Linked DNA regions of Homo sapiens. The protein of the gene in region 2 purifies or fractionates together with the protein of the main gene of each other region. This does not show direct contact. Each region holds a gene or a part of one and is shown on either strand. Other genes may lie near its edges. The genes, in order: VCPIP1, DND1, TRAP1 and EMB.

Evidence for each region.
Region 1: the proteins of DND1 (region 2) and VCPIP1 purify together in Homo sapiens (affinity purification with mass spectrometry; 3 studies listed by BioGRID and IntAct, with this or other methods). This does not show direct contact.
Region 3: the proteins of DND1 (region 2) and TRAP1 purify together in Homo sapiens (affinity purification with mass spectrometry; 3 studies listed by BioGRID and IntAct, with this or other methods). This does not show direct contact.
Region 4: the proteins of DND1 (region 2) and EMB purify together in Homo sapiens (affinity purification with mass spectrometry; 3 studies listed by BioGRID and IntAct, with this or other methods). This does not show direct contact.

Annotation. Positions count from the first base shown.
Region 1 is NC_000008.11:66,664,232-66,671,834, reverse strand, and holds the start of VCPIP1 (deubiquitinating protein VCPIP1), read left to right. Parts: upstream 1-4,603; 5' UTR 4,604-4,876; coding exon 4,877-7,586; intron 7,587-7,603. UniProt on the Homo sapiens protein: Deubiquitinating enzyme involved in DNA repair and reassembly of the Golgi apparatus and the endoplasmic reticulum following mitosis. Necessary for VCP-mediated reassembly of Golgi stacks after mitosis.
Region 2 is NC_000005.10:140,670,565-140,678,299, forward strand, and holds DND1 (dead end protein homolog 1), read right to left. Parts: upstream 3,013-7,735; 5' UTR 2,979-3,012; coding exon 2,955-2,978; intron 2,825-2,954; coding exon 2,707-2,824; intron 2,343-2,706; coding exon 1,881-2,342; intron 1,782-1,880; exon of another isoform or gene 1,187-1,781; coding exon 729-1,186; 3' UTR 230-728; downstream 1-229. Other genes in the region: HARS1 (histidine--tRNA ligase, cytoplasmic), read right to left, coding at 3,693-3,764, 4,115-4,261, 4,453-4,569, 6,090-6,332, 6,425-6,552, 6,763-6,856, 7,091-7,189, 7,344-7,451.
Region 3 is NC_000016.10:3,686,524-3,693,543, reverse strand, and holds part of TRAP1 (heat shock protein 75 kDa, mitochondrial isoform 1 precursor), read left to right. Parts: intron 1-2,558; coding exon 2,559-2,717; intron 2,718-4,406; coding exon 4,407-4,489; intron 4,490-7,020.
Region 4 is NC_000005.10:50,438,283-50,445,857, reverse strand, and holds the start of EMB (embigin precursor), read left to right. Parts: upstream 1-4,569; 5' UTR 4,570-4,706; coding exon 4,707-4,818; intron 4,819-7,575. UniProt on the Homo sapiens protein: Plays a role in the outgrowth of motoneurons and in the formation of neuromuscular junctions.

The DNA.
Region 1 (7,603 bases), on a different chromosome or scaffold from region 2:
TGCACATTAAAGCTTGAGGACTACTGTGCGAAGGAATGACTTGCAGCTCTGTACTCGGTCATTTGTCTCAAGGGGCCCTGGTGTAAGGTCTTAAAGAGTGGAATACTGGCCACTGCTCAAACACATTCACATTAGAAAAAAAAAAAGGCCGGGGACGGTGGCTCAAGCCTGTAATCCCAGCACTTAGGGAGGCCGAGGCAGGCAGATCACGAGGTCAGGAGATCAAGACCATCCTGGCTAACACGGTGAAACCCCATCTCTACTAAAAATACACACAAAAAAATTAGCCGGGCGTGGTGGCAGGCACCTGTAGTCCCAGCTACTCGGGAGGCGGAGGCAGGAGAATGGCGCGAACACGGGAGGCGGAGCTTGCAGTGAGCCGAGATCGCGCCACTGCACTCCAGCCTGGGAGACAGAGCGAGACTCCATCTCAAAAAAAATAAAGTTAAACTCCTGCTGACCCAACAAAACTACATCAAGCCAAGTTTGGCTACTGGTCACCAGTTTGTATTGACTTCTTGCCTAATTCTCTCTCAAATCAGTAAGCAGCTGTGATGTAGTGGAAAGAGTGAGTGCTGAACAAGGAAAACCTTGATTTGAAGCCCAGCTCTATTTCATAGCTGGTGGTAATAAAAACGATGTTAACCTTTTAGAGTTAAATCTTATCCGTATAAGGACAATACTGTATCACAGGAGTGTTTTAAAGATTAAGATGATATACTCAAAACACTGCCCTATAATAAATTGCCCTCAATTAAATTTTCATAGCATTTGTGATATTTCCTGTATTATTTTGATTACATGCTTTATTCTACTTATATTTATGAACAATTTAGTTTAGCCTCCCTCTTCTATTAAACTCTAAGCTTCTTTGAGACAGAGATGAAATTTTGCATCCCTTTAAATTCTTATAATACCTACTTCAATAATTAGTCCCTCCCAAATCCACTTTGAGCTTCAGTCGAAGCTTGTGACTGGAAGTCTGACTATACGTGGCACGGGTCTGGAAGAACACAGTCAATTCTTGGTAAAGATGTATAGTTTATATAGGCAGGTATGTGGCCAACTTACAGCAATCCCCAAAGTTATGATTCCCTTCCTTATATATATAAAATATAAAAGATCAAGAACAATGATGGTTGTTCTGTTGGTAAAAGTGGATGACTTCTGCATTTACATTTACCAAGTTTGTTAAAAGCAATATAGGGAGTTTACAAGTGCCATACTAGAAACTATGAAAAAGATGAATTTCTATTTTAACTGAATTTTGGCAATTTAGGTATTAGTGATGCTGGGGTGATGGTGGTAGAAGAGACGTGTATCAGCACAGCTAATGTCAGAGGCCCAGCTTATTCTTTTCATCTGGACTACTAAAAACAAGAACTATTATCTACCCCACAAAAATCCTGTGAAAGTTAATTAGGTAGTTAAGTTAATCTTCATTAGGCAAGATCATGGAATTTGGGAGGAAAAGAGGAAGGAAGCCTGCAGATCTTGCATAAGCAGGAGAGGCTTTCTACACTCCTCCGGTCTTATAAGAAACAGTATGTCCTATTTTTGACCTAACAATTTTTTTTCTTTGTAGGTATCCATGCCTTCTAAGTGCTAGTAATAAAGAATTAATTCACATATTAAACTTGACATGGTTAATTTCATTGCCCCTTTATGTTAGCTTTCTTTCTGAACTTTGAGTGCATCTACAAACTTATTAAATGATCTAGACAAGCCAGAAAAAGGCTTCTCATTTCTTCAGTGGGGTGGGAAGTGATTATTTTGTCATAGTATGGTTCAGAATGACATATTCAAATACAATTTTAAAAATCTACTTCACTATGTATATGTATCATCAATAAGAAAAATTTGGCCTGGTGTTGTTAAGATATAAAAGTACCTGACAGTGTTAGAATTGCAGACTGTTGTCATCTCATGTGCTACAAAGCTTTAATTCAATTATTTGGATTCTGTATGAGAAAAACTTTCACTGCAGGTGTAACATTTTCGTCACAGCATAAAATAATCTCCACTTAAAGGAGATACCCAATTTCTCTACTTATAAAGCATTCAACTGTTAATAAAAAATCAGTGCCAAAACCAATCTGTGTAGTTACCACCAAACTTGTTAGAATAAACAACTTTTCTTGCATGAATTCTCTGAGAAAAACTTTATTGAAAAATACCCCCTCCGGCCGGGCACGGTAGCTTGCGCCTGTAATCCCAGCACTTTGGGAGGCCGAGGCGGGCGGATCACCTGAGGTCAGGAGTTCAAGACCTGCCTGACCAACATGGAGAAACCCCGTCTCTACTAAAAATACAAAATTAGCTGGGCGTGGTGGCTCATGCCTGTAATCCCAGCTACTCGGCAGGCTGAGGCAAGAGAATGGTTTGAACCTGGGAGGCGGAGGTTGGGGTGAGCCAAGATGACGCCATTGCACTCCAGCCTGGGCAACAAGAGTGAAACTCTGTCTCAAAAAAAAAAAAAAAAAAAGAAAGAAAAATATCCCAAGATAGGAAAAATCACTTCTCTTGTAATTAAGGTCCATTATGGAGGATTTCTCTTTCAAATATTTATTTTCAAGAAAATTGTAGCAATTAGGTGCACATCAAAACTAATACCCTTTATGGGCCTCTATTTTGCAGATGGTTCATTTCAAAGCATCAAGTTCTACATACATACATACACACACACACACACACACACACACACACACACACACAACCTAATCAGGCGGTTTCCTGGGCAGCTACAGAAGACTCAAATGATCTCATGGACTTCACTAATGTTTCTAGTTGGTGCCAAATGTTTCAGAAATTTTGAGGTAGTCCACTTACCTAAGGTGATACTAAACTTCCAGAAAGCAAGAATTTCCGTAATAAGTGAAAGAGGATGAATGTACAAAAATAATACTAGCTTTCAATTAACATATGAATATTGTTCTGTATGAAGAGGCAGTTTCCTACCCAAGTGAAAAAAGAATAAAGCTGTTGCCTCCTTAACATTAAACATCCCTTCATCACTAAGAGGAGACTCTAAGGCCTAGCAAAAGATTTGAGCCTAACATTTTGGGTTTTTTTTTTTTTTTTGAGACGGAGTCTTGCTCTGTCGCCCAGGCTGGAGTGCAGTGGCGTGATCTCGGCTCACTGCAAGCTCCGCCTCCCGGGTTCACGCCATTCTCCTGCCTCGGCCTCCCAAGTAGCTGGGACTACAGGCGCCCGCCACTACGCCCGGCTAATTTTTTTGTATTTTTAGTAGAGACGGGGTTTCACCATGTTAGCCAGGATGGTCTCGATCTCCTGACTTCGTGATGCATCCGCCTCAGCGTCCCAAAGTGCTGGGACTACAGGCGTGAGCCACCGCGCCCGGCCGGGATTTTTTGGTAAGCAGCAGCGTAAAAATCACTCTCAAGGTTTGAGATTGGGATCCAGCATAACTGGTGACTTGACCTTGGGCAAGTCACTTAATTCCTTTTAGTCTCAGTTTCCCTGATTGTAAATGAAGTCAACACCACCTGGTAAAGGTATTACAGGACTGGTGTGAGGATGAGATGATACATGTGAACATATTATTAAATATGTAAACTATAAGGCAATAGTAAGCAAATGCTAGTTACTATTCTATGTAATACAGGCCTAACCTTTCCTGCCTATGTCCTGATCTGTAAAAAGAAGACAGGTTGAGATCTGAATGTCTATCCACTCACTTATCAGCTGCGTGAACTTTAGCAAGTCATTTCCTTTCTGGGCCTGTTTCCTAAGAAGGTTATTTTTTAAGATCAAATGATATCGTGTTATGCAAATGCTGTCCAGACACATATTAAGAACTTAACACATGATGGCTCTTATTATTCTCTGGGGAGTAGGGTGGTAAAGAGCAAATGAAATTAAACCTAGTTAAGAGAATTTGTATATGCACACAAAACTCTACAGACATCCAAGGTACCGTTATTTGCACTGTAAACTGCCAAAACATGCAGGAAACGAGAAATCAAATGGCGCCTCAGTGATTCGCACTAGAGAGGGGGAGAAGGCAGAGCTTCCGAGAATCAACTGTTTTCCCCCTTATGGCCTCCAGCCTAGATTAGACCATTTATTCAACTTCCCAGCCCCCAATATCCCTGGACATTTATTTACTGTACCTTTTTCACTGAGAGCCTTTCCACTCCCCTCCCCTTCTAGTAGTCGTGAACTTCAGACCCTCGCTTCGACTCCCACTGCCATAACTGTTTTTAACCAAGCTTCCCTGAATCCTCCCCTCCGCCTAAGGAGGAAGTGCAGCTAGACGCACCGCACGGCATCCTAGGAAATGTGGTCTCTCAGACTCTTTGCCTTGGGCTGCAGAGTGGGGAAGACGACGAAGGAGAGCCCAGTAAAACTACAACTACCGGCAGGCAACGCGAGTCACCATCTTTCTTTCGCCCCTTTTCCTGTTGCCGTCCTCTTCCTCCTCTCCTCTAGCGCTGAACCGCTTGGCCTCACGGTACTTGTAGTTCCTTCTGGACTCAAGATCCTAGGGCTTGATGGCCAGCACAGAGGCTGGAAGACTCTAATTCCCAGAGGGCAGAGCGGAAGCTGCGCCTGCGCACACTCAATGAGGGCGTGTATGTCTGTGTCTGAGGGAGAGAGAGCGAGAGTGAGTGAGTGTGAGTGCGGGGTGGGGTGGTGGCCGTTACGTTCGGGGCAACGGCTACGGCAGTGGAGAAGTAAGAAGAGAAACAACGTCCGGCGCTTCCGCCTTCGCTTAGGAGGAGGAAGAGCTGGTAGGGAAAGGAAAGTGCTTCGCCCTGGGCCTGGACTGGACCGAGTCGGGTTGGTGGGGGTCTGGGCTATGAGCTTTTGAGGGTCGCCTGGGACGCGGAGCGAGACACGAGAGCCAGGAGCTATGTCTCAGCCGCCGCCGCCGCCGCCTCCGTTGCCGCCGCCACCTCCTCCCCCTGAGGCTCCACAGACTCCGTCGTCCTTGGCGTCGGCGGCTGCTTCGGGGGGGCTTTTGAAGCGGAGAGACCGGAGAATCCTTTCCGGGAGCTGCCCGGATCCGAAGTGTCAGGCGCGTCTATTTTTCCCGGCCTCCGGTTCTGTCAGCATCGAGTGTACCGAGTGCGGCCAGCGGCACGAGCAGCAACAGCTGCTGGGGGTTGAGGAGGTGACCGACCCGGACGTAGTGCTACACAACCTGCTGCGGAACGCGCTGCTCGGGGTTACGGGGGCACCCAAGAAGAACACGGAACTGGTAAAGGTGATGGGCCTTTCCAACTATCACTGCAAATTGTTGTCGCCCATATTAGCTCGCTATGGAATGGACAAACAGACAGGCCGGGCCAAGCTTCTCCGGGACATGAACCAGGGCGAACTGTTCGATTGCGCCTTACTGGGTGACCGCGCCTTCCTCATAGAACCAGAGCATGTTAACACTGTGGGCTATGGCAAGGACCGCTCCGGAAGCCTCCTGTATTTGCATGACACTCTGGAGGACATTAAGCGGGCCAATAAAAGCCAGGAATGTCTCATTCCAGTGCATGTGGACGGGGATGGACACTGCTTGGTGCATGCTGTGTCTCGGGCTCTAGTAGGCCGAGAGCTCTTCTGGCATGCCTTAAGAGAGAATCTTAAACAGCACTTTCAGCAGCACCTGGCCCGATATCAAGCTCTGTTCCATGACTTCATTGATGCTGCTGAGTGGGAGGACATTATCAATGAGTGTGACCCTCTGTTTGTACCACCTGAGGGTGTTCCCTTGGGCCTGAGGAATATCCACATATTTGGTCTTGCCAATGTGCTACATCGTCCTATTATTCTGTTAGATTCCCTCAGTGGCATGAGAAGCTCTGGTGATTATTCAGCCACCTTTCTACCTGGGCTCATCCCTGCAGAGAAGTGCACTGGGAAAGATGGTCATTTGAACAAACCAATCTGTATTGCATGGAGCAGCTCCGGTAGAAACCATTATATCCCCTTGGTAGGCATAAAAGGGGCTGCTTTGCCCAAACTGCCTATGAATTTGCTTCCTAAAGCATGGGGTGTGCCTCAGGACCTTATTAAAAAGTACATAAAACTTGAAGAGGATGGTGGTTGTGTTATTGGAGGTGACAGAAGTTTGCAAGATAAATACTTACTTAGGCTTGTTGCTGCTATGGAAGAAGTCTTTATGGACAAACATGGTATCCATCCTAGTTTGGTTGCTGATGTCCATCAGTATTTCTACAGAAGGACTGGAGTGATAGGAGTTCAGCCTGAGGAAGTCACAGCAGCTGCTAAAAAAGCAGTAATGGATAATCGCCTTCACAAATGTTTGCTCTGTGGTGCCCTTTCTGAACTTCATGTTCCTCCAGAGTGGTTGGCTCCTGGAGGGAAATTGTATAACCTGGCAAAAAGTACTCATGGACAGCTGAGGACTGACAAAAATTACAGCTTTCCCTTGAACAATTTGGTTTGCTCATATGATTCAGTGAAAGATGTTCTGGTACCAGACTATGGAATGAGTAACCTAACAGCTTGTAATTGGTGCCATGGCACATCTGTGCGAAAGGTCAGAGGAGATGGGTCTATTGTGTATTTGGATGGAGACAGAACTAATTCTAGGTCCACTGGTGGCAAATGTGGTTGTGGATTCAAACACTTTTGGGATGGTAAGGAGTATGACAATCTACCAGAAGCTTTCCCTATTACTTTAGAATGGGGTGGAAGAGTGGTCAGAGAAACAGTATATTGGTTCCAGTATGAAAGTGATTCATCTTTGAATAGTAATGTTTACGATGTTGCAATGAAACTTGTTACCAAGCACTTTCCAGGTGAATTTGGGAGTGAAATCCTAGTTCAGAAAGTTGTCCACACTATATTGCATCAGACTGCCAAAAAGAATCCCGATGATTATACTCCTGTAAATATAGATGGTGCTCACGCCCAAAGAGTTGGAGATGTTCAAGGACAAGAATCAGAGTCTCAGCTCCCAACTAAAATTATTCTTACTGGACAGAAAACAAAAACTTTGCACAAGGAGGAGTTAAACATGAGTAAAACTGAAAGAACTATTCAACAGAATATTACGGAACAGGCTTCTGTAATGCAGAAACGGAAAACAGAGAAGTTAAAACAAGAACAAAAAGGGCAACCCAGGACTGTTTCTCCCAGTACCATTCGTGATGGTCCATCCTCTGCACCTGCTACACCTACCAAGGCTCCCTATTCACCGACAACTTCTAAGGAGAAGAAGATCCGAATCACAACTAATGATGGACGACAGTCCATGGTTACCCTTAAGTCTTCAACAACCTTTTTTGAACTTCAGGAAAGTATAGCCAGAGAATTCAACATTCCTCCATATTTACAGTGTATTCGATACGGGTTTCCTCCTAAAGAGTTAATGCCACCACAGGCAGGAATGGAAAAGGAACCAGTTCCTTTACAGCATGGCGACAGAATTACAATAGAAATTCTAAAAAGTAAAGCTGAAGGTGGTCAGTCTGCTGCAGCACACTCAGCCCACACTGTGAAACAAGAAGATATTGCTGTTACTGGTAAACTGTCATCTAAGGAACTTCAGGAGCAAGCTGAAAAAGAAATGTACTCCTTGTGTCTTTTAGCAACATTAATGGGTAAGATGAATTTAATT
Region 2 (7,735 bases):
TCTCGAACTCCTGACCTCAGGTGATCCACCCGCCTCAGCCTCCCAAAGTGCTGGGATTACAGGCAAAAGCCAACACACCCGGCCTGGATATGAATTTATAATACCCTACAGTGCAACACAAGAAGATGCACTCAAAGCACTGATGTGAGGAAGTACTTGCCCCGTAGCAGCTATTCACTCTACCAGTGTAAACAAACTCTAAGCTAGGGCAAGACAGCACAGACACAAGTATATACTAACCAGGGGTTTAATATAAATACAACCAGCATAGAAAGACCCAAAACTATACAGAAACCAAAACCAGAATGCCATGTGGTGGAGGCAAAGGGCAGAATTTCTGACCCCTTTGGCTCAGCTGCCCTTCCCCACAAATAAAAACCAACAAAGAGGACAAATCAGGACAATAAAGAAGATTCATGCTAAGCTGTGGCAGAGGGGGGAAGGTATGATCGGGTGGGGGTGGGACAAGGAACGGCCATGGAAGATCACTGGGTCAGGTTGGACCCTGGGCTGGGAGCGGGAGGGCAAGGCCCCTCACCACAACTTAACCCAAACCTAAGCTGCCCCCAGGTGCCATAGGTCCCTGTCCCAGCAGGGAGGCTGATGGGCCTGGGCCCATGCCCCTCCCCACCTTTGGGGGTCAGAAAGTGGCCACCCAGGCCTGCTGGGATGGGGCCTGACACAGGCTCTGCATGCCCATTCAGGGTGCCTGTGGAGAAAGAATGGAGTCACTGTTTAACCATGGTACCTGCCTCAGCCCCAGCAGACCACAGGAGGTTGGCCCCAGACTCACTGAGTGCCTGCAGCAGCCGTACAGACACAGCATCCTTGGCCACCTCATGCCCATCCCGGCCATCTAGGGTCAGCACAACCCAGATGAGGCCGCTGAAGGGCACCGGATGCCCAGGAATCACCACCTGGTACCAGAAGCGGTGCCAGCCAGCAGGTCCTATGCCCAAACACTTGGTGAGGAACACAGGGCTGCCCAGCTTCATTCGTTGGCACAGCAACTGCAGGGTAGCCCGAGCCCCTTGGAACCCTAACTTGTCCCTTGCCAAAGCCAACTGGCTGCCCTCTGGCTGTGGGGACCGCAAGAAGGGACCCACAAGCTGCTGGCGAAGTCGCTGCTTCAGGTCTGGCTTGAGCCACTCCACAGCCACCTGCTCTCCACAGAGGTGTGACTGCCCTGTAGGAAAAATGCAAAGACAAGGGCAGGTCTAAACCCTGGGCCCAAGCCTCCAGGTGGTGAGCCCTTTGGAGCTACACAGTCCTGTTATTTGTAGCCTTCCCATTTCCTGGTAGTGTGACCATGGGTAAGAAAAGACAATGAAGCCTTCAGCCTCCATTATTTGCAAAGGGAGTATAACACACTGCTACCTTACAAGTTTCCTTGGAGAAGTACTGGTTAATTGCAGGCTTTGTCTGCCTCATAACCATCATAATGGCTAATCTTTACTGGGAAAACTTGCTGTAAGTCAGTCAGTGTGCTAAGTACCGTACACCCATTATGTTACTTAATTCTCATAACAGTCTGAGGAAACAGATTCTATAGTAGTAAAAAGCTCAGTTGGATTCCCTTGAGCAAATCAATTTCTCTAACAGTTTCCTCATAGCTTGAGGGTCCTGTGCCTATTTTGCGGTGTGGGGGTGGGGGAAGGTTGAGAATTAAGTCAGGAGGTAATGCTCGGGAAGTGTCACAAATTTAGGTAAGCGGTGGTGGTAGCACCATTGGAAGTTTTAAAAATCTGAGATCAAATAGTAAAAGGTTGCAAATTCTGGCATGTTTGACTCTAAGATCTTGTAACTTTAACAGCTATGCTCAGTATAAAGTGCCGGGCAGAACGCGTTTGGCCCCAACCAGCACCCCCGCCCCAGCCTACCTTCCACCAGGGCCTTTTTGGCCATGGCAGCGGCCCGGTGCGAGCTGAATTTGAGCAGAGCGATCTGCCCGGGCGCCGGTCCGGGGCTGGGCAGCAGCCGCGCCTCCTGCAAGCCGGGACCCAGCGGCTGCAGCGCGAGCAGCAGCGCGCTGCGGGTCAGATTCGGCGGCAGGCCGTCAACGCTCAGCTCACACTTCTCGGTGCTGCGGCACACGAGCAGCGGGCAGGACGGCCGCAGCGGATGGTTGTGCAGCGTGGCGATGGCGGCCTGCGCGCCGCGCCTCGAGCTGTAGCGGGCATAGGCGAAGCCGCGGTTCAGGCCGCTGAAGGTCATCATCAGGCGGAACTCGTAGAGGCGGCCCACGCGCTGGAACAGCGGGATAAGCTGGTGCTCGTACACGTCCTGAGGCAGCCGCCCGATGAACACCTCTGACCCAGCTGGCGGCGGGCTGCCCACCCAGCCTGTGGGAAGAGGGTATGCAAGGCCACCGTCAGGCGACGCTTTCGAATTCTGAGCCCACGGACCCAGCGCGCGGGGGTGGGAGGCGATGTGAACAAAGGTCTGTGAAATGGGTTTACACCCGTACCCTGGGTGGTTGGCATAATTAGGTGACTGCGCTAACAAGGGGGCTGGCACAGAGTAGGTACACCTTGAGATTGGCCCCCTCCCTCGACGGGGCGGGTGGACGTGGAGCCACAGTTCCTCCTTTGCTGGGGGGTATAAATCCGGGTAGTTCGCAGTTTCTGACAGTGAAGGCTCGGAGCAGCCCCTCCCCCAAAGGGGGCTGGTGTAGCCGGACAGGCGGAGGGGCTGGGACTACCGTACCTGGGGGTGGCCCGCCATACTTCCTCTGCCCGTTCACCTGCACCAGGCGGATGCCTGTCTCCCTGACCCACGCCTCCAGCGCCGCCTTGTTCTCTGGATTCACCCTCTCACACCACAGCTGAGAGGGAAAGGAAGGTTGGAATGGCGGATCGCCAAGCGCGCCCCCACCTCTCCTGTGGTACTGGGGTCCCTAAAGCCGACCCCCGCTCCGGCGGGGCTCGCCGGCCCCCAAGTCGCCAGCCGCTTACCTCACAATCCCGCTTGGACTGCATGGCTCTCCAGCTGGCCCCCTCGTACCCTCTTTATAACTTCCTCCCCACCGGCCTCTGGAAGCTTCCCTACCCCTCCACCCCGCAAGCTCTCATTGGCTCTGAGCGCGACCCCGCCTCCCAGGGGGGTGGAGGTATCCACTGCACGTGCGCCGCCCGGGCTTCGCTCAGACCTTCAGGTGAAAGCTGCAAAGTCGCGGGTGCGTATGTACGGGGGCTGCCTCCCGAGGAGGAGCTCCCAAGCCGCAGGGTGGACGCTGGAGACAAGAACCTCAGGGTCACAAGTTTACTGTTTTTCTCCCTTTTCCATCCCTACATTGGTCTGCTGGGGAAGGCGGGGCTAGGCATCACTGACACACGCAGACTCCGTGGTTGAGGCATTTTATTGGACCTTTGGCAATTGGTGGTGGGGAGGCATCTGCTCCAACTGGTGCGGGGCCCTGCAGATGGGACCATCTCAGGCTGGGTCCTTGTAGCCCAGGAGCACAGACTGGACTAAGCCTCCTGGGCCTTGTATGAAAAAGGTGTTGTACCTGGCCGTTTTTGCCAGTAATAATCAATAAAATAACCATAATAAAAATCAAAGGCTCTGTTCTGACCACTCTTCAGGTCTTCCGCTGAAACGGAAAAGTGCAAAGCAATTGAAGTACATATGCAGTTTGTCTTAACCTCAAATAGTGCCAGTCCCACTTCCTTTCCTCTGATAGTTTGTTCAGTTCAGCAGATGCAGAGGGGCTGGCCTGTTCTCCTTTTGATTTCCTCCACAAGGTCTTCTCTTCGGACATCCACCTGGCCAGGATGGGAGAAGAAGGTGGTATAAGCATCTTCCATTCCACTGCTCCCCGAGTGCCTAGTTTCCTCTAGCCCTCTAGGCATCAGGCTTGTCTCAGCTGGGAGCAGGAACCTAATTAAACACCTCAGGCTAGAGTGTGCCTCTTGGGGGAGCCAACAAACCATAAGGTATATGCAGGGATGGAGATCTCACCCTACTAAGACCACAGTAACAGGTTAAGCCCTCAAGGCTTTTATGAGTTGTACTAATATCAATGCCAGGCTTTTTCTCAGGTCTTGAATGGGCATGGGCCTGCCAAAATGGCATACATTCTCTGTCCCTTAGCCTTCCTGCCCACCTCCCTCACCTCTTCCCTGCTCGTCACTGAACGGAGCTTGATGACCCCATCCTTGAGTTCCTGCTCGCCGATGATAGCCACCAGTGGGATGCCTGCCTCCTCACAGTACTGTAACTGGTTCAGTAGCTTTGGGTTCTTCTTGTACAGCAGCTCAGCCTGCAGGGGACAAGAGCAGAAGATGAAGGCTGGCTTCTGCTGTCCTCAGGGACAGAGGGTGTCCAAGCTGGCACCCTGTTCTTAGCTCTACTTTTGAGAAGTAATGGCAGGATCCATTATGGGTGAGCTTTTATTCAGTTTGTGTCCAGCACACCTAAGTTTGCTGCCACCCTGGGGCTTGCCTCCCATACCTTGATCCCAGCATCCCACAGTTCTGAGACAAGCTTTAGTCTTTCCTCTAGCAGCTTCTTCTGTGCAGATGCCACAAGCACCTGTGTCTCCGTGGTCCGTATCTTCTCCTCCAAAGCCTGGGGAAGGGGCAGATAAAAGAGAGCTGGGCTAACACCTTCAAGGAGCAAACAAAGCAGGCTCTAGTCGGGATTTTGAGACCAGGCCCAACTCAGCTCTACCAGGGCAGGGGCCCTGTCTTCTCATCTAGCACCTTGGGCATAAAGGTAGCTTTTAGTAGATATGAGGACTGAACTGACTGACTTGTACATAGGACGTATCAGAATAAATAACTTAGGGCAAGAGTAAAGGTAGCTTTTTTACAGTAACTTCAAGCTTATCTCCATGTAGTACCTTTTTTTTTTTTTTGAGACAGGGTCTCTGTCATCCAGGCTGAAGTGCCGTGGTGTGATCACTGCAGCTTCGACCTCCCAAGCTCAAGTGATCCTCCCACCTCAGCCTCCTGACTACAGGCACACACCACCATACTCAGCTAATTTAAAAAAAAAAAAAAATTTTTTTTTTTAATCTGTAGAGACAGGGTCTCATCATGTTGCCCAGGCTGGTCCATGTAGTACCTTAAGGGTCCACCAAAGCATTCACACAGAAGTACTACTATGAGCCCACCCCAATTAGATCACCCTTGACAGTTTTAGTCCCCACTTACTATCTACCCATTTATGACACTGTGCCTCTCACACTTCAGTTACAGGGCACAGGCGTGTATATGGGTGTGGGGAAAGGAGAATGCTGCTGCTGCTTCCCTTGTCTTTTTCAGGAAAACTATTTTCATAGTTCTTAGAATGTAAGATGCCTACTGGAAAAATGATCTCAACTGGGAAATGGGTGGTTTCCACCCTAGAGAAAAGGCATAGGACTGTGGGGAGGTTGCCAGAGCATTTCCCAGAAGATGAAATGCAACCAGCCACTTAAGACCAGCAGCAACAAAGGAGGGCTTGAGGCTACAAGAGGCTTCCTTGGTGTTACTCTAGGTGCTAGAGAGTCACGGTAGCCATCTGAGGGATCCCAGGGCCTCAGACACATGCTTCCCATTTAGAGACAGTATTGCAGTGTGGTTAGTGGCAAGACTTTGGAGTCAGACTGCCTGGATTCAAATTCTGACCCTACCACTTACAAGTTTCATGGCCTTAAGCAAATTATTTGATCTATAATGCTTCAGTGTTCTCATCTGGAAAATGCAATTAATAAAATTAGCTACTCTCACAGGGCTGTAGTAACAATTATATTTTGATAATGCATGAAAAGCACCAAGCACAGTGCCTGGCACAAGGCAGTAAAATGTTAAGTATTCCGTATCATGAGGAAGATCTAAGTCTTGGATACACCAGCCCAGGTTTGTGACAGCCCTGAAGGAAGTAGAGACCCAGAGCAGAGGATTGAGTGCAGAAAGATTATGGATTAAAGATCCATAAAACTTACATATAATGGGGTAGAAATCTGTGAAAAAGAGCAATAATCTTTTCTCCATTTCTGTGAGATGCTCCCTGCCCAAAGCAGCACCACTTGCTCCCTTGGAGATCAGATAGCTTAGGTGCCACCACCTGCTCAGACTATCTTCTACCTACCTCCTAGGACCTACCTCTAGTCTCTGTTCCACGATGGAGAAAATCCGCTCCACCCCAATGCTGAGCCCCACACATGGCACCTTGCGCCCTTTGGGGTCGAACATGCCCACTAGCCCATCATAGCGTCCTCCAGCAGCCACACTGCCCACACCCAGGGGCTCTTCCCCTGCCTGGGCTGGGGTCTGTAGCAGCACTGCCTCATAGATCACCCCAGTGTAGTAATCCAGCCCTCGAGCAAGGCTCAGGTCAAAGGAGATCTGTGGAGATAAGAAAATGGTCAGTGCCAGATTAAGATCAGGGACCTGAAGCCCCAGAGCTCAGAAGGGATCCCGTCCCCAACTTGACTCACTTTGTCATCAATGCCAAATAGGGTCAGGTACTCAAAGAGCAACTTCAGGTCTCCCAGGCCCTCCAAGGCCTGCTTGTTTTGGGATAGTTTAGGATCCTGGAGCAGCTGTTCCACCAGGGATACCCCACCTGGGGAGACAGACTTGTGAGTGAGGCTGACAAGGAAACAAAAAAGGTAAGGAGGGTTGACCTTCTTGCCTGGACTCTAGTCGCCCATGCATGTGTGTGTACATATGCATAGACACACTCACTCCCCTACATACATAACACAGAACAGTTTCAACTTTAGGACTGAGGGCAGTGGGACGGCTGCTGGGGAGGCTTGGTTCTGTTCCTCACCATGTTGCTGGACATAGTCCCCAATGCGGTCAGCCACCTCAGGTGCAAGGCCCTTCTCTCCCACCATCTCATTCTTCACCTCTTCCCAGGACACCTAGGCAGACAGACACCAGTCAGGGACCCCTGGGCAGCTTCCGCACCACAGAGCAAGTGTGTACTGTCCTCGGGGAACCGTTTTAGAGCAGTAGCTGCCCATGAGCCTACATCCTGGGGCTAACCTTCCTCTGGTGGGTATAGAGGCATGCACCTCTCTCTCTCTCAATCTTGTTTTCCATTTCCCAAGGCAGGGTGGGATCTGGGAAAAGAAGTCAAGTACTTGGGTTGTTACCTTGTCCAGCTTGTCTACTGAGGAGCAGATGGTACGGAACTTGCTGTCAGAAACACCACAGATAGCAAACATCCCATCTAGAATGCGTCGATCGTTTACCTGCAAGGAACCAATGCATAGTGAGGGGGGAATCTCTTTTCTTACATGACCTGCAATAGTCATGGTCACTTAGGCTACTGGTCCCTCTGCACAAGGATCTTCTCTTGTGAGAGGCCAGGCCCAACTTTGCCCTCCCAGCCTTGTCAGCTCTGACCTTGACCAGGAAGTCGCCTATCTGAAGTGAACTCAGGATCTCGCACATGATCTTCAGGCACTCTGCATCAGGGATCATGGGATCAAAGTTCCCAGCAATGTCAAAATCCTGCAGGGAGAGGGTTAGCCAGCGGTCTTCAGGGATTCACCTTTCTGAAGGGGGGACTCTGGGAGCTCTGTCCTCTAGGAAGGCCTGGTTGCACTCAAGCATAGAATTTCTCTTTCATTTTCTGATCATCAGCCCAGAGGTAAACCCCGGCATCTTTGGGCTTCTCACCAGTTTTGGTTTCCTTTCCATCTACTGGGCTATTCCTTCATTTTCTACTTCATCATCTTCTTAACTCCTCCTACTGGATGGGGTGATTATATGGCTTTAGTGCTTAGCCATTTTCC
Region 3 (7,020 bases), on a different chromosome or scaffold from region 2:
GACACTTCCCTCCTGTGCCCCCAGGGCTGGCTGTGCTTTGGAAGGAGGCACAGAGACTTCAGCACCCTGGTTTGATGTAGACTGTTCGCGAACTCCTCTAATGCCAAATACCATTTAATTCCAGAAGAAATGTCCCGGGATTTTTTTTTTTTTTTTAACTGTACGAATAAAGTGAACAATGCAATTACATGGGCCCAAATAACTGGATGTTTACATGGTTTGGAATTTGAATACTTTCTGAATTGTGGTAGATGTTTTTAAGGTATCTGCATAGAGATAAAGACAGGCTAGGGTTGGCCGGGCATGGTGGCTCACGCCTGTAATCCCAGCACTTTGGGAGGCCTAGGTGGGTGGATCACCTGAGGTCAATAGTTCGAGAGCAGCCTGACCAATAAGGTGAAACCTCGTCTCTACTAAAAATACAAAAATTAGGCATGGTGGCTGGTGCCTGTAGTCCCAGCTACTTTGGAGGCTGAGACAGGAGAATCGCTTGAACCCAGAAGATGGAGGTTGCAGTGAGCCGAGATCACTGCACTCCAGCCTGGGCGACAGAGCGAGACTCCATCTCAAAAAAAAACAAAAACAAAAGGCCAGGTTTGTGCTGTTTGTAAGTCCAGGAATAAGCCTAAAGAATAGGCAAGTTTTGGCTGGGCACGGTGGCTCATGCCTGTAATCCTAGCACTTTGGGAGGCTGAGGTGGGCAGATCGCCTGAGGTCAAGAGTTCGAGACCAGCCTGGCCAACATGGTGAAACCCTGTCTCTACTAAAACTACAAAAATTAGCTGGGTGTGGTGGCAGGCGCCTGTAAACCCAGCTACTCGGGAGGCTGAGGCAGGAGAATCGCTTGAACCCGGGAGGTGGAGGTTGCAATGAGCCGAGATTGCACCATTGCACTGCAGCCTGGGCAACAAGAGTGAGACTTCATCTCAAAAAAAAAAAAAAAAAAAAGGCAAGTTTTTGTACCTTTTAGGAGTATGAAAGTTGATATGTTAATTTTTTTTTTTTTTTGAGACAGAATGTTGCTCTGTCACCCAGCCTGTAGTGCAGCGGCACGATCTCGGCTCACTGCAACCTCCACTTCCCAAGTTCAAGCCATTCCCCTGCCTCAGTCTCCCGAGTAGCTGGGATTACAGGTGCCTGCCACCATGCCCGGCTAACTTTTGTATTTTTAGTACAGATGGGGTTTCTCCATGTTGGCCAGGCTGGTCTCGAACTCCTGACCTCATGTGATCCGCCTACCTCAGCCTCCCAAAGTGCTGGGTTTACGGGCGTGAGCCACCGCACCCCTGGCTGATATGCTGATTTTTAAAACCTTGATTCCTGGATATTCTGTTGTCTTTCCTTTCTACTTGTTACAAATTTGTGAAGAACAGGAGAGGCTCCCAGTTAGATGCGGTTCATTTAGGCTTAGACTTTGACACGGCGTGGCTGGCTGGCCACATATCCTTGACACCATCACGTATTGCAAATCTACTGACCAAGGCAGGGTCCTGGTATGTGGTCCCTGGGGTCAGTGGGTGTTGGTGTTGGGTCGGTCCAGTCCTGTGTTGGAGTGAAAGTGTCTGGTTTCTGGGCCTGCGTCGGTGAACTGCGTGCGGCTGGGGACACATTGGCTGCTTTCCTCCCTCGCTGGGCTCTGCCGGCAACTTTCTCAGCCCACTGGACTGAGCAGGAAGTTACAGAAGACAAGTCTCCTTCTTAGTTAGAAGGTAGAACCCATCGTCAGCTGTTTTTCAGTTTTTAAAGTACACAAATTTTTTTTAAAAAATCTGTTTTGGATGAAAAAGCAATGGGAAAGAATCAACTTTTAGAAGATGAGACAGTTTCAGAATATTAACATTTAAATATTTGGATCCCTTTTGGGAGGATTTTTTTTTTGCTTGACTGTCAAGAGCAAAGAAGTGTGGCCCATCGGGGGCTTCTGCAGGGGCTGCGAGGGTCGAGACAGGTTTCAGTTTGGTAGGTTGATGCGAGGTGTCACCCGTGAGGCGAATGTGGGAAGTGCTGTCAGCAGGCATCTGCCAGCTGGGCATGGTGGCTCACGCCTGTCATCCCAGCTCTTTGTAAGGCCAAGGCGGGAAGATGGTTTCAGCCCAGGAGTTCGAGACCAGTCTTGGCAACATAGCAAAACCCCATTTCTACAAAAAATTTTTTAAAAAATTATGGGGGCATGGTGGTCTGTGCCTGTGGTCCCAGCTACTCGTGAGGCGGAGGCAGGAGCATTGCCTGAGTCCAGGAGGTTGGGGCTGCAGTGAGCTGTGATCGCAGTGACAGAGCGAGACCCCCTCTGAAAAGAAGGCAGCAGCCCACCCCCTCCAGTTTCGCTTCTGCGGTTCTGAGAAGACACAGTATCTTACACTGATGACATCTGTGAGGGCTCCTTGCCAAAACCACACCCTGACACTGTGGCATTTGGTCCTGTGGATTTCTCTTTCAGCAACAGCCCGACTTAGAGATGTCCACGCTAGCTTCTGCTAGACACCCTTGATGGGACGAATTACCATATTGTTTCTCGTGTCTTCCTAATTCTCATTCTTTCTGCATATTTGTCTTTTCAGGAAAACCAATTCTGTGTCCTCGGAGGACCACAGCCCAGTTGGGCCCCAGGCGAAACCCAGCCTGGAGCTTGCAGGCAGGACGACTGTTCAGCACGCAGACCGCCGAGGACAAGGAGGAACCCCTGCACTCGATTATCAGCAGCACAGAGAGCGTGCAGGGTAGCCTTGGCTCGTGCTTTGGTCTGGGAGGGCTTTTTGGTTCACTGCTGTGCGTAAAGGGGCATTTTCAGGGTGGAGGCAGTGATTGGTAGAGCCACCGCCTTAGGTGTGAAATCAGAAGGTCTTGGCTGTAGGGAGTGCTGCGCCCTCCATTTCTGTCCCAGCGAGGGACTTCTGCCAGTGTCGGGTGTGTCTTGCCCCCTCTGGTGGCCACCCGTGAGTTTGCCGTCCGGCACCTCCCCTGAGTGGTGATTCATGGCACATCTGCTAATAATCATGGAAGCGGGAGGGGAAACTCAGCATTGGCCCAGTCTGCGCAGGACCGAATTCTGGAGCTGTCTTTTCATTCCCTCTGAAGTATAAAAAAGCAGTCTTTGGAGCCAGTCCTGAAGTGGCTCCATTTCTGGCTTTTAAGTGGGTCGACAAGAGTAGAATCTTTGAAGTTAAAAAGAGAAGTGAGGTTTTCTTGTTATTTTGATTTCTAACTAATTAATTTGGAAACCGCTTTTTTGAAGAATATAGTCCAGGCACAGTGGCTCACACTTGTAATCCCAGCACTTTGGGAGGCCGAGGCAGGAGGATTGCTTGAGGCCAAGTGGTCGAGACCAACCTGGGCAAGATAGACCCTTTCTCTACAGAAAAAAATTAAAAAGTTAGCCAGGCATGGTAGCACACACCAGTGGTTCCAGGTACTTGAGAGGCTGAGGCAGGAGAATCGGTTGAGCCCAGGAAGTTGAGGCTGCAGTGAGCACGATCCTGCCACTGCATAGCAGCCTGGGCAACAGAGCCAGATCCTGCCTCTAAAAAAAAAAGAAAGAACATATAATCTGGTTCTTAGAGGCAGTCCAGTTCTCGTAACCATGCACATTGGGAAACCAGGCTCAGCATTCCCTCGACATAGCCCGAGGCATGTCTGGCCTCAGCAGTGGGAGGATTTGTCCTGCCCTGAGACCTCCTTTCTGAGAGACTTTTTGTTTTGTTTTGTTTTGAGACAGGGTCTTTCTCTGTCACCCAGGCCGAGTGCTGTAGTGCAATCATGGCTCACTGAAGCCTCGACCTCCCTGGCTCAAGTGATCCTCCCACCTCAGCCCCCTGAGTCACTGGGACCACAAGTGTGTGCCACCACCGTCAGCTACTTTGTGTATTTTTTGTAGAGATGGCGGGATCCCTCTGTGTTGCCCAGGCTGGTCTTGAGCTCCTGGGCTTAAGTGATTCTCCTGCCTTGGCCTCCCAAAGTGCTGGGATTACAGGCATGAGCCATGGTGCCCAGCCAGACTTTGTTTCTGTCTGCTTCTTTCTTTTTGTTCATGATCTTAAATGTGTGGGAGGCCGAGGCGGGCCAATCATGAGGTCAGGAGATCGAGGCTATCCTGGCTAACATGGTAAAACCCCGTCTCTACTAAAACTACAAAAAATTAGCCGGGCGTGGTGGCAGGCACCTGTAGTCCCAGCTACTCGGGAGGCTGAGGCAAGAGAATGGCGTGAACCCGGGAGGCAGAGCTTGCAGTGAGCCGAGATCGTGCCACTGTACTCCAGCCTGGGTGACAGAGCGAGACTCCGTCTCAAAAAAAAAAAAAAAAAAAAGTTTAAAACTCATAAACTTAAGCTTTCTTTGGAATGTGACGTAGCGTATTCTTGCACAAAAATAGAAGTTAAACTTTGTTGGTTGTGTCTGTGTTTCATTACTAGGTTCCACTTCCAAACATGAGTTCCAGGCCGAGACAAAGAAGCTTTTGGACATTGTTGCCCGGTCCCTGTACTCAGAAAAAGAGGTGCGTTCCCTGCTAACCATGCCCGATGCTAGCAAAGTTTCTTTTCACAAAGCTGGTTTTTATGCCATTCTGGAGAATTGCCAGATAATATATTAGCTGTGAGAAAGCATTAAACTTTGGACAGGTCCTCATCTTAAGCTACCAGTGAGAGGAGTTTTACCAGAATCTGTTTTGGTTTCCTGGATAAGTGTATCCAGATGGTTCTTTGGGCTGGATCAACTCTGGGAATTAATTGAATTTTGCCAATAATTTTAAAAGTTCCCGAAATACAGGCCTGGTGTGGTGGCTCATGCCTGGGAACTCAGTGCTTTGGGAGGTCGAGGCAGGAGGATCACTTGAGCCCAGGAGTTTGAGACCAGCCTGGTCAACACAGCAAGACTCCGTCTCTACAAAAAATTTAAAAAATTAGCCAGCTATGGGGGCACTGACCTGTGGTCCCAGCTACTCAGGAGGCTGGGGTGGGAGGATGACTTGAGCCTGGCAGACTTTGGGGCTGCAGTGAGCCATGATTGTGTTACTACACTGACCTGCACAACAGAGTAAGACCCTCTCTCCAAAAAAAAAGTCCCCCAAATCCTAGCGTGCAGCTCTGCTGAATTCCGTCTCTGTGGAGCTTTGGATACGCTCTGAGGCCCCTTTGCCTGGTGGGACTACCTGCAGGTCTTGGCGGCTTTGGCTGCCGGAGGAAGAAGGTTCCCCAGTCCTGTGTGTATGGAGCAGGGAGGAGTTACTGAGGAAATTAAAACGCATTTGGGGCCAGGTGCGGTGACCCACACCTGTAATCCCGGCACTTTAGGAGGCCAAGGTAGGAGGATTGTGTGAGTCCAGGAGTCTGAGACCAGCCTAGGCAACGTGAAGAGACCCCATCTCTATTAAAAAAAACCCCGCAAAACTCATTTGGGGTGACAGGACAAGGAAAAAGAAAGATGAAGGCCACCATCGTTGACATGCTGATTATTGCTGGAAGGCAAAGGAGAGTCCTGAAGAAAGTTTGTAAAGCAGCAGATTTCAAAGCTCAGAGGGCCTTCTAGGAGCTGTTTCCGGGTTTCGTACTGATGAGTGCTGCATTCCTGACTCCCAGTGACCTCCAGCTTCCGCCCAGATCAGCCACCGCTTCCTCTTCACCTATGTGCTCTTGCGGACTTAATTTTTCTATTTTTAATTGTGTGGGTTTTTGTTTTTTTTTTTTTTGGTTTTTTAATTTTTTGGAACAGGGTCTGGGTCTGACGCCCAGGCTGGAGTGCAGTGGTATGATCTCGGCTCGCTGCAACCTCCGCCTCCTGAGCTCAAGCCATCCTTCCTCCTCAGCCTCTGGCTGATATTTGTATTTTTTTGTAGAGACGGAGTTTTGCCGTGTTGCCCAGGCTGGTCTTGAACTCCTGGGCTGAGGTGATCTGCCTGTTTCAGCCTCCCAAAGTGCTGAGATCACAGGTGTGAGCCACCACACCCGGCCTCTCTCACTGATTTTAAATGGAAGGTCTGTTTGAGGTCAGTGTGCTTTTCAGCTCCTGAGGGACAGCTGGGCCCTGAGGCCTGTTTTTCTCCGGGTGTGGTAGACCTGGTGTTTGGTGGTCCCCACTAGATGAGATGAAGCTAGGGAACCTGTTTTTGTGGAGTAGGAGTGTATTAGTCCATTTTCACGTTGCTGATAAAGACATACCTGAGACTGGGCAATTTACCAAAGAAGGAGCTTTAATTGGACTTACACCTCCATGTGGCTGGGGAAGTCTCACAGTCATGGTGGAAGGCAAGGAGGAACAAGTCCCGTCTTACATGGATGACAGCAGGCAAAGAGAGAATGAGCAAGACACAAAAGCAGAAACCCCAAAAAACTGTCAGATCTCATGAGACTTACTCACTACCACGAGAACAGTACTGGGGAAACGGCCCCCATGATTCACTTATCTCCCACCAGGTCCTTCCCACAACACGTGGGAATTATGGGAGTACAATTCAAGGTGAGATTTTCGTGGGGACACAGCCAAACCATATCAAGGAGAAATGGATGTTTGAGTGATATGCCGTCATCCCTGTGCAGGAGTTGGGAAAGAAATTGTTCCTCGCAGGCCTCTTTTGTTTGTTTTTTTGAGACAGAGTCTCTCTCTGTCGGGGCTGGAGTGCAGTGGTGCCATCTCGGCTCACTGCAACCTCCGCCTTGTGGGTTGAAGCGATTCTCCTGCCTCAGCCTCCTGAGTAGCTGGGATTACAGGTGTGTTCCATCACGCCCAGCTAATTTTAATATTTTTAGTAGAGACTGGGTTTTGCCATGTTGGCCATGCTGGTCTTGAGCTCCTGACCTCAAGTGATCCACCTGCTTCAGCCTCCCAAAGTGCCTGGATTACAAGCATGAGCCCCCAACCCCAGCCAGAGGGCTCTTCTTAAAGTTATAATTAACAGATGGACACGTAACTTCAGGCTTGATTAAAAATCCTGAAAAGGGCCAGGCACCGTGGCTCACGTCTGTAATCCCAACACTTTGGGAGGCGGAGGCACAACGATCACTTGAGCCTGGGAGATCAAGACCAGCCTGG
Region 4 (7,575 bases), about 90 Mb from region 2:
ATGATGAAATTGAACCAATTTGTTACAGATAAATAAGTTTATACAACTCTACTTGCCCAAAAAGGAATATGTTTTTAATAGCCAGTCACAGCAGAGGTCAATGCACTTCCTCATTGATGCTTTATAAGCTGCACTGTAACTCTCACGTCAAGTTTCTTACTATTTTTGATTTGAAGTCTTCTGGTTTGTGAACTATTCTTCTGTATGTATAATAAACCTTCATATTCCTTTTTTACTTGACCTGACTTTATTTTTACGGGGTCCTCCATGGCGTTTGGGTTTCTCACAGTGTGGCAGTCTCAGGATAATACTGTAGTACTTTTCACTAGGCAGGTGTCTTCTATGAGCAAGATCTCCAACAGAAAGGAAGTGGAAGCTCTTGTGGTCTGGAACAGAAAGCTCACACAATCTCTCTCTCTCTTTTTTTGTTTTGAGACAGTCTTGCTCTGTTGCCCTGGCTGGAGTGCAGTGGTGCGATGTTGGCTTGCCGCAAGCTCTGCCTCCTGGGTTCAAGCAATTCTCCTGACTTAGCTTCCCAAGTATCTGGGATTACAGGCATGCGCCACCATGCACAGCTAATTTTTTTTTTTTTTTTTTTTTTTTTTGCATTTTTAGTAGAGACGGGGTTTCACCATATTGGCCAGGCTGGTCTCGAGCTCCTGACCTTGTGATCTGCCTGCCTCAGCCTCCCAAAGTGCTGGAATTACAGGCGCGAGCCACCACGCCTGGCCAGCCCACACAGTATCTCTTCAGCAATATTCAGTAGGTTAGGGGAGTCAAAGAGCCCACCCAACTCAAGGGGAGAAAACAAAGGACCCTTATTCCCCCTTTATACGCTTCATGATGAGAGTATCAAAGTGCTTGTTGCAATATTTATTTCACCAAGGAGGAAAAGGTCAATTTGGACCAGAAAGGTCAGAAAAAGTTTCCCCCGTCTGGGTATCTCCAATTCTTCTATCCCTGGTTCACCTCAGAGTATTGCAGTTCTGAGAACCAGTGCATTCTGGATTCATTGTAGAACTTTGATTCTCTACTTGACTGTATGTCAGAATCACCAGAGAGCTTGAAAAATCCTGATACCTGGATCTTTTCCCGCAAAACTCTGGTTCATTTGGCTTGGGATTCAGTGTGGGCATTAAGGAGTTTCATCAGCTCTCCATGTAGCTTTAAATGTGATTTTAAGCTGGTTAAAAACCACAGCTTTAAAATGATATGGCCTAGACAGTGCACTGTTAGGTAAATACTTATTCCATAGGCATCAGGGTTAAGTTGATATGCAGAGAAGATCTCTAAAGAGAAAAAAAAAAAAAAAGGTAGGAAACAAATGAAAGTGGAATAAATGAAGGTGTAAATCAATAAGATGAATGGGGGAGGGGATGTCACTCTACGTATATGGTATAAGTTCTGCTCTTTTAGCTCCACGTAAGCTAAAATTGTGGAATAATGTACAAGACAAAAGTTATGAAGTTAGCATCGAATTTAAGCCAGAATTAAAAATTGTCAGGCACTCTCAGCTTGTTTTCTAGATTCGGTATTGATCTCTGCGAAATTCAGTTTTCTCTTTGCCAAAGGATATTGTGAGGTTTACTGGATATTTTTGACCTAGATGTATAGGCCTACATACTTGGACACAGGTTGTCTGTTAACCTAAGACTTTGAGTCAAATTTTAATAATAAGAATAGTTATAAATGTATAGCCCTATGAGTTAGCATTTTTTTAGTTCCAGCTGAAAAAAGAAAAAAGAATTGTCTAGAACATTTTTCTCTCTTCTGGGTATCCCCAGTACTTCTATCCCTGAGTTGCAATCCACTAATATTATTATTTATTTGATGCTCAATTTGTCCCAGATTTGTCCAGTGGGAACCCCTTTAAATGTCCTTAAAGGTAAAAACTGCCAGCATGTTCTACTGAGATATGGACTAACAATGTCAGACATATGTGGGTGCTTGAATAGTATTTGCTTCAAAAATATTTATTACTAGAAAGCTGCTGTGTTTGGGGTGAGAGGTTAGTAGGGAAGGGGGTTCATAAAGGGAATGCAAAAGCCACGTCCTCTGGAAGTTAAAGGATCATTTTAAATGATTCTACTGCAAACATTTTTCAAAAGATAAACATGACCCATTTCTCCAATTTGTGTCATGTAATAGTAATAATAATGATATTTAAATACTCCCACTGATATGTCCTTTACAAAGATATATTATATGTCTTATTTAATCAAAAAACCTTAAAAGAGTCCCTGTACCTAATTTTATTCCAGGACTCAAACTGTGTCAGCATGTCATTCAGTGCAAATCAGACATTTAGATGCATAGGCTATGCTGTCAGTAGTTCTGAACTTTCATAGACATTTCCAATTAGCTCGGAGAGACAACTGGATATTGTGTTTAAGCACTGTGTTTAGGAAAACAGGCACTGGATGGACCAATGCCAAATTTCCTGCTCTGCTGCTTAACTAAGTATGTGTAATTACTTGGGCAATTACTTAAGCAATTACTTGGGCAATTACTTAAGCCAATCCCCAATTTCTTCGTCTTGAGCCCAGAAGGTCAAGGCTGCAGTGAGCCGTGAATGTGCCTCTGCCCTCCAGCCTGAGCGACAGAGTGAGAATTCCCCAGGAGTGCAGAGGTTCTCAGAACTGCAATACTCTGAGATGAATTTTGAAAGGTGAATCAGGGATAGAAAAAGTTATATAGGGAAGGCAGTCAATAAGCTTGTTTTAAAGGATATGGAGCATTTGAAAAAGTGGAATGTACATAAGGCTGGAAATATCAAATATCTAAATATAGAACAGGAACAGTGATGAAAAGACTTTCAAAATGCTTAGCAAAATGAGAATTATATTTCTTTCTCAACTCTTTTGTTCCAACAGCAAAAGCAACAGTGGGGATCAGCATCAACTTGGGTAAGTAAGTTTTTCTGGTCATAAATAGGCTGATTCAACTGAAAAAAATGTTTCTTTAAGAAGGGTGAATTTGTGTCTAAGGATTTTATGAGACTAACTGGGAAAAGTCAGTCAGAGTTTAGTTTGAGGTGAGAAGTGCTTACTGTTGACACTCTACCTAATTATAGGGAAATGTGTGCAGTTAGTCCTGAGACCAGATGCAGGGTTGAAAGAAAGAGGTGTGATGTAGCAGCCATTGATTAGGCAATTTGGGTTTAGCAAGCCCAGTCAATGCCCTCAGAGGGTCAACAGTGTATAAGATTTAGTCCTTGAAGGCATCTTTTAAAGTTTCATTCAGAAGATTTTAATAATTTTGACCATAATTTTCTGAGAAGAGGCTTTTCTGAGATTTGTCATTCACAGATAAACAGTTGTCTAATTTGTGTGTGTGTGTGTGTACATGTGTGCATGCGTGCATTTGTGCATGTGTGCCTATCTAGCCTCTTTTGAACACAATGGTAGATTGGCACCTGGTAGATAATATTGTTGAATGAATTGTATTATTCATATTATCTCACTGCCAATTTGAAGAATCTACATTCTGTTTCCAAAGTTTTGTGCATATAATACTAAACCAGAAACAGACGTGTTTTAGTAATACGTACCAATTACAAATTAACCATTCCTGCCTGGAATAAACACAGGTTTTGTTAAATAGCTCAATTTTCAAAATTTGTCTCATGTTATTTCCAATCCTTTTTTTTTTAACGCCGATATATTTTGAATTTACGAATGTGAAAGCTGAACTTCAAAAAAATAAAGGGAGAGGAAACAAAGCTCGTGAAAAATTTTAAAAATATCTTTTAATGCGTTATAACATCCTGGAGAGAAATCAAATCAATGTGTTTCAATGTTACAATATAGATTTCTCCTCCCCTCCCGGATAAAGCACTAATTTATTTAATTTGGTTCAGAGCACTGAATATTCCAAGCTACAGCCTTGTGGGTAAGAGCATTATCTTAAAGAGTGTTCGGATTTAACAAAGGTCAATGTCTTGTGCAGTTTACATAGTATCTACTCTCAGTAGCTTTTGCTTCTTGAGCTCTAGGTGGCTCCTCAGAAGCTGTTAGGCTTAACAAACAAAAATAAAGTAAAATCAGACACGGTATGGGGCCTTGGGACTCTAAAACCTTCATCCGGAGAAAATCAGTTAAGCCTTCAGAGACTAGAAGAGAGAATGTGTGTGATTGGTAGGCAAAGCAAAGAAAGATTAACACAAGTTGTCTGGCAGCTGGATAAAACCTTACACCTGCGCAAAAATAAGCCTCCCTCGTAAGAAAGCCCAAAGATGTCCGGGGTCCGGGAGGAGAAAAGTGTTTCTCATCTGTCCCATCAAAGCAAATTAGTGAAACCTGCCTCAGGTGAAGTGCAAAGGCCAGTCTGTAGGCAGAGTTTCGACCTCTCCCCACGAGATTGGCTAGACATCACCTGCCCAAGCTCTCTCCCGACCTGCTAGAGCCGAGAGGGCGGAGGCCGGAGAGGCTGCAGCCGGGAAGTAGCACCGCCACCGCACATCCGGGAACGCCAGCAGCCGGCTGAGGGCTGCATAACTGATGGAGGGCCGGGCGCGGTAAGAGCGTCTCGGGGGAGTGGGGCAAGGCGGCCGGGCCCCTCCCATTCCGCCTTTTCTTCAGCGTCCTACCCGCGGCACTGGCTGCGAGCGCCGGGCCACCTGCGAGTGTGCGCAGGGACTCTGGACACCCGCGGCGGCGAGCTGAGGGAGCAGTCTCCACGAGGACCCAGGCGGACCCTCTGGCGCCATGCGCGCCCTCCCCGGCCTGCTGGAGGCCAGGGCGCGTACGCCCCGGCTGCTCCTCCTCCAGTGCCTTCTCGCTGCCGCGCGCCCAAGCTCGGCGGACGGCAGTGCCCCAGGTGTGATGGGTACAGGGTCCAGGGTAGGGAGGGCGGAGGGCGCGCGAGGCTCGGGTCCCCGCGGGCAGAGGGCATCGCCGGCGCGCCGGGCAAGGGTGGCGGGGAGAGGCGCGGGGATGCTGGTAAGGGCGGGTGGGAGAGTCGGCGGCGGCCTCCCATTAGCTACGTTTGTGTCACCTAAGCTGAACCCTGAAACTGCTGCGGCTCGCGTTCCTGCGCTCTTTGGGGCGAGTCTTGAACGAACAGCGCCCCGCGAGTCGGGCGCGTAGGTAACAGGGCAGAGTCTGGTTTTTCCTAGGAAGAAGGCAGTGGGGTGTGTGGGTGGTTGCAGGGACCAGCTAGCGACTTGGCTTGGGCAAATATGGCATGAATTTTGAAAGCCACATTTCCCCAAGGCCTACTCCCTTTTCTTGATTCGAGAGTAAGGCTCGAGTATCACCTCCTTCCCTCCTCTTGGCAGGTGGGTTGGCTTTGAGGATTTTTTTTTTTTTTTTTTTTTTTTTTTTGAGACGGAGTTTTACTCTTGTTGCCCAGGCTGGAGTGCAATGGCGTGATCTCGGCTCACCGCAACCTCCTCCTCCCGGGTTCAAGCGATTCTCCTCTGTCAGCCTCCAGAGTAGCTGGGATTACAGGCATGCGCCACCACGCCGGGCTAATTTTATATTTTTAGTAGAGACTGGGCTTCTCCACATTGGTCAGTCTGGTCTCGAACTCCCAACCTGAGGTGATCCGCCCGCTTCGGCCTCCCAAAGTGCTGGGATTACAGGCGTGAGCCACCTCACCTTGCCGAGGATGTTTTTTTAGAGCTGAGTAGGGGAAAAAACATCATAACCAACTAGCCAACCAAAGATCCACAACTTACAGGATAACGTGTGTGTATCTTCATTTTACACCGTGGTCTTTGAAAACAAAATGTGTGTGTGCATGTGTGTGTGTGTATGTGTGAGATTTTTGCTTGTTGTTTTATTGTTTAAGACACTTTGACAGAGGGATTACGTGCAAAACATTAACAAAGCCAACACGAAAGTTGCCATTCTACCTTCACCTGTTTATAATTACTTTTCATATTGAAAGGATTCCATCCAACCTATTGCAAGTTTCTGTGTCATAAATGTTACCAGCCAGTAAGGGTAATAAAAGACCACCTCTCAAGCTGGTAAATATTGGCCACCAGTAACTAAAATTGGGACATTATTCTGCAAAAAGTTTTCAAACTCTCATGGGAATTTATTTTCATGGGCTTGTAAGATGTGGAATTTTTGTAACACACCATAGAGAAGGAAGGATAATCAAAAGGTAAGACTATTAATTTTTATAAATGCCTTTTAAAACGTCTAGTTGTTAACAACTTGGACAGAACATCGTGGGTTCCTTCGCAGATTTCCTTGTGCCACATCTCTTTTCCATAATACCACTTATAAAGAATTGTCCAGGCCTGTAATCCCAGCACTTTTGGGCGCTGAGGTGGGAGGATGGCTGGAATCCAGGAGTTCAAGACCACCCCGGGCAACATAGCAAGGTCCCTTCTTTATTAAAAAAAAAAAAAAAAAAATTAAAAGTGCGGTTGTGGTGATGTACACCAGTAGTCCCAGGTGCTTGGGATGCCAAGGCAGAAAGATTGCTTCAGTCCAAAGTTTGAGGCTGCAGTGAGCTATGATGGTGATGGTGCCACTAAGCTCCAGCCTGGGTGACAGTGCAAAACTGTCTCAAAAAAAAAGAAAGAAAAAGAAACAGAATTGTCCAGGACATTTTTCCCCCTTCTGGGTATCTCCAATTCTTCTATCCCTGGTTCACCTCAGAGTATTGCAGTTCTGAGAACCAGTGCATTCTGGATTCATTGTAGAACTTTGATTCTCTACTTGACTGTATGTCAGAATCACCAGAGAGCTTGAAAAATCCTGATACCTGGATCTTTTCCCGCAAAACTCTGGTTCATTTGGCTTGGGATTCAGTGTGGGCATTAAGGAGTTTCATCAGCTCTCCATGTAGCTTTAAATGTGATTTTAAGCTGGTTAAAAACCACAGCTTTAAAATGATATGGCCTAGACAGTGCACTGTTAGGTAAATACTTATTCCATAGGCGTCAGGGTTAAGTTGATATGCAGAGAAGATCTCTAAAGGAAAAAAAAAAAAAAAGGTAGGAAACAAATGAAAGTGGAATAAATGAAGGTGTAAATCAATAAGATGAATGGGGGAGGGGATGTCACTCTATGTATATGGTATAAGTTCTGCTCTTTTAGCTCCACGTAAGCTAAAATTGTGGAATAATGTACAAGACAAAAGTTATGAAGTTAGCATCGAATTTAAGCCAGAATTAAAAATTGTCAGGCACTCTCAGCTTGTTTTCTAGATTCGGTATTGATCTCTGGGAAATTCATTTTTCTCTTTGCCAAAGGATATTGTGAGGTTTACTGGATATTTTTGACCTAGATGTATAGGCCTACATACTTAGACACAGGTTGTCTGTTAACCTAAGACTTTGAGTCAAATTTTAATAATAAGAATAGTTATAAATGTATAGCCCTATGAGTTAGCATTTTTTTAGTTCCAGCTGAAAAAAGAAAAAAGAATTGTCTAGAACATTTTTCTCCTTTCTGGGTATCCCTAATTCTTCTATCCCTGATTCACCTTTCAAAATTCATCTCAGAGTATTGCAGTTCTGAGAACCTCTGCACTCCTGGGGAATTCTCACTCTGTCGCTCAGGCTGGAGGGCAGAGGCACATTCACGGCTCACTGCAGCCTTGACCTTCTGGGCT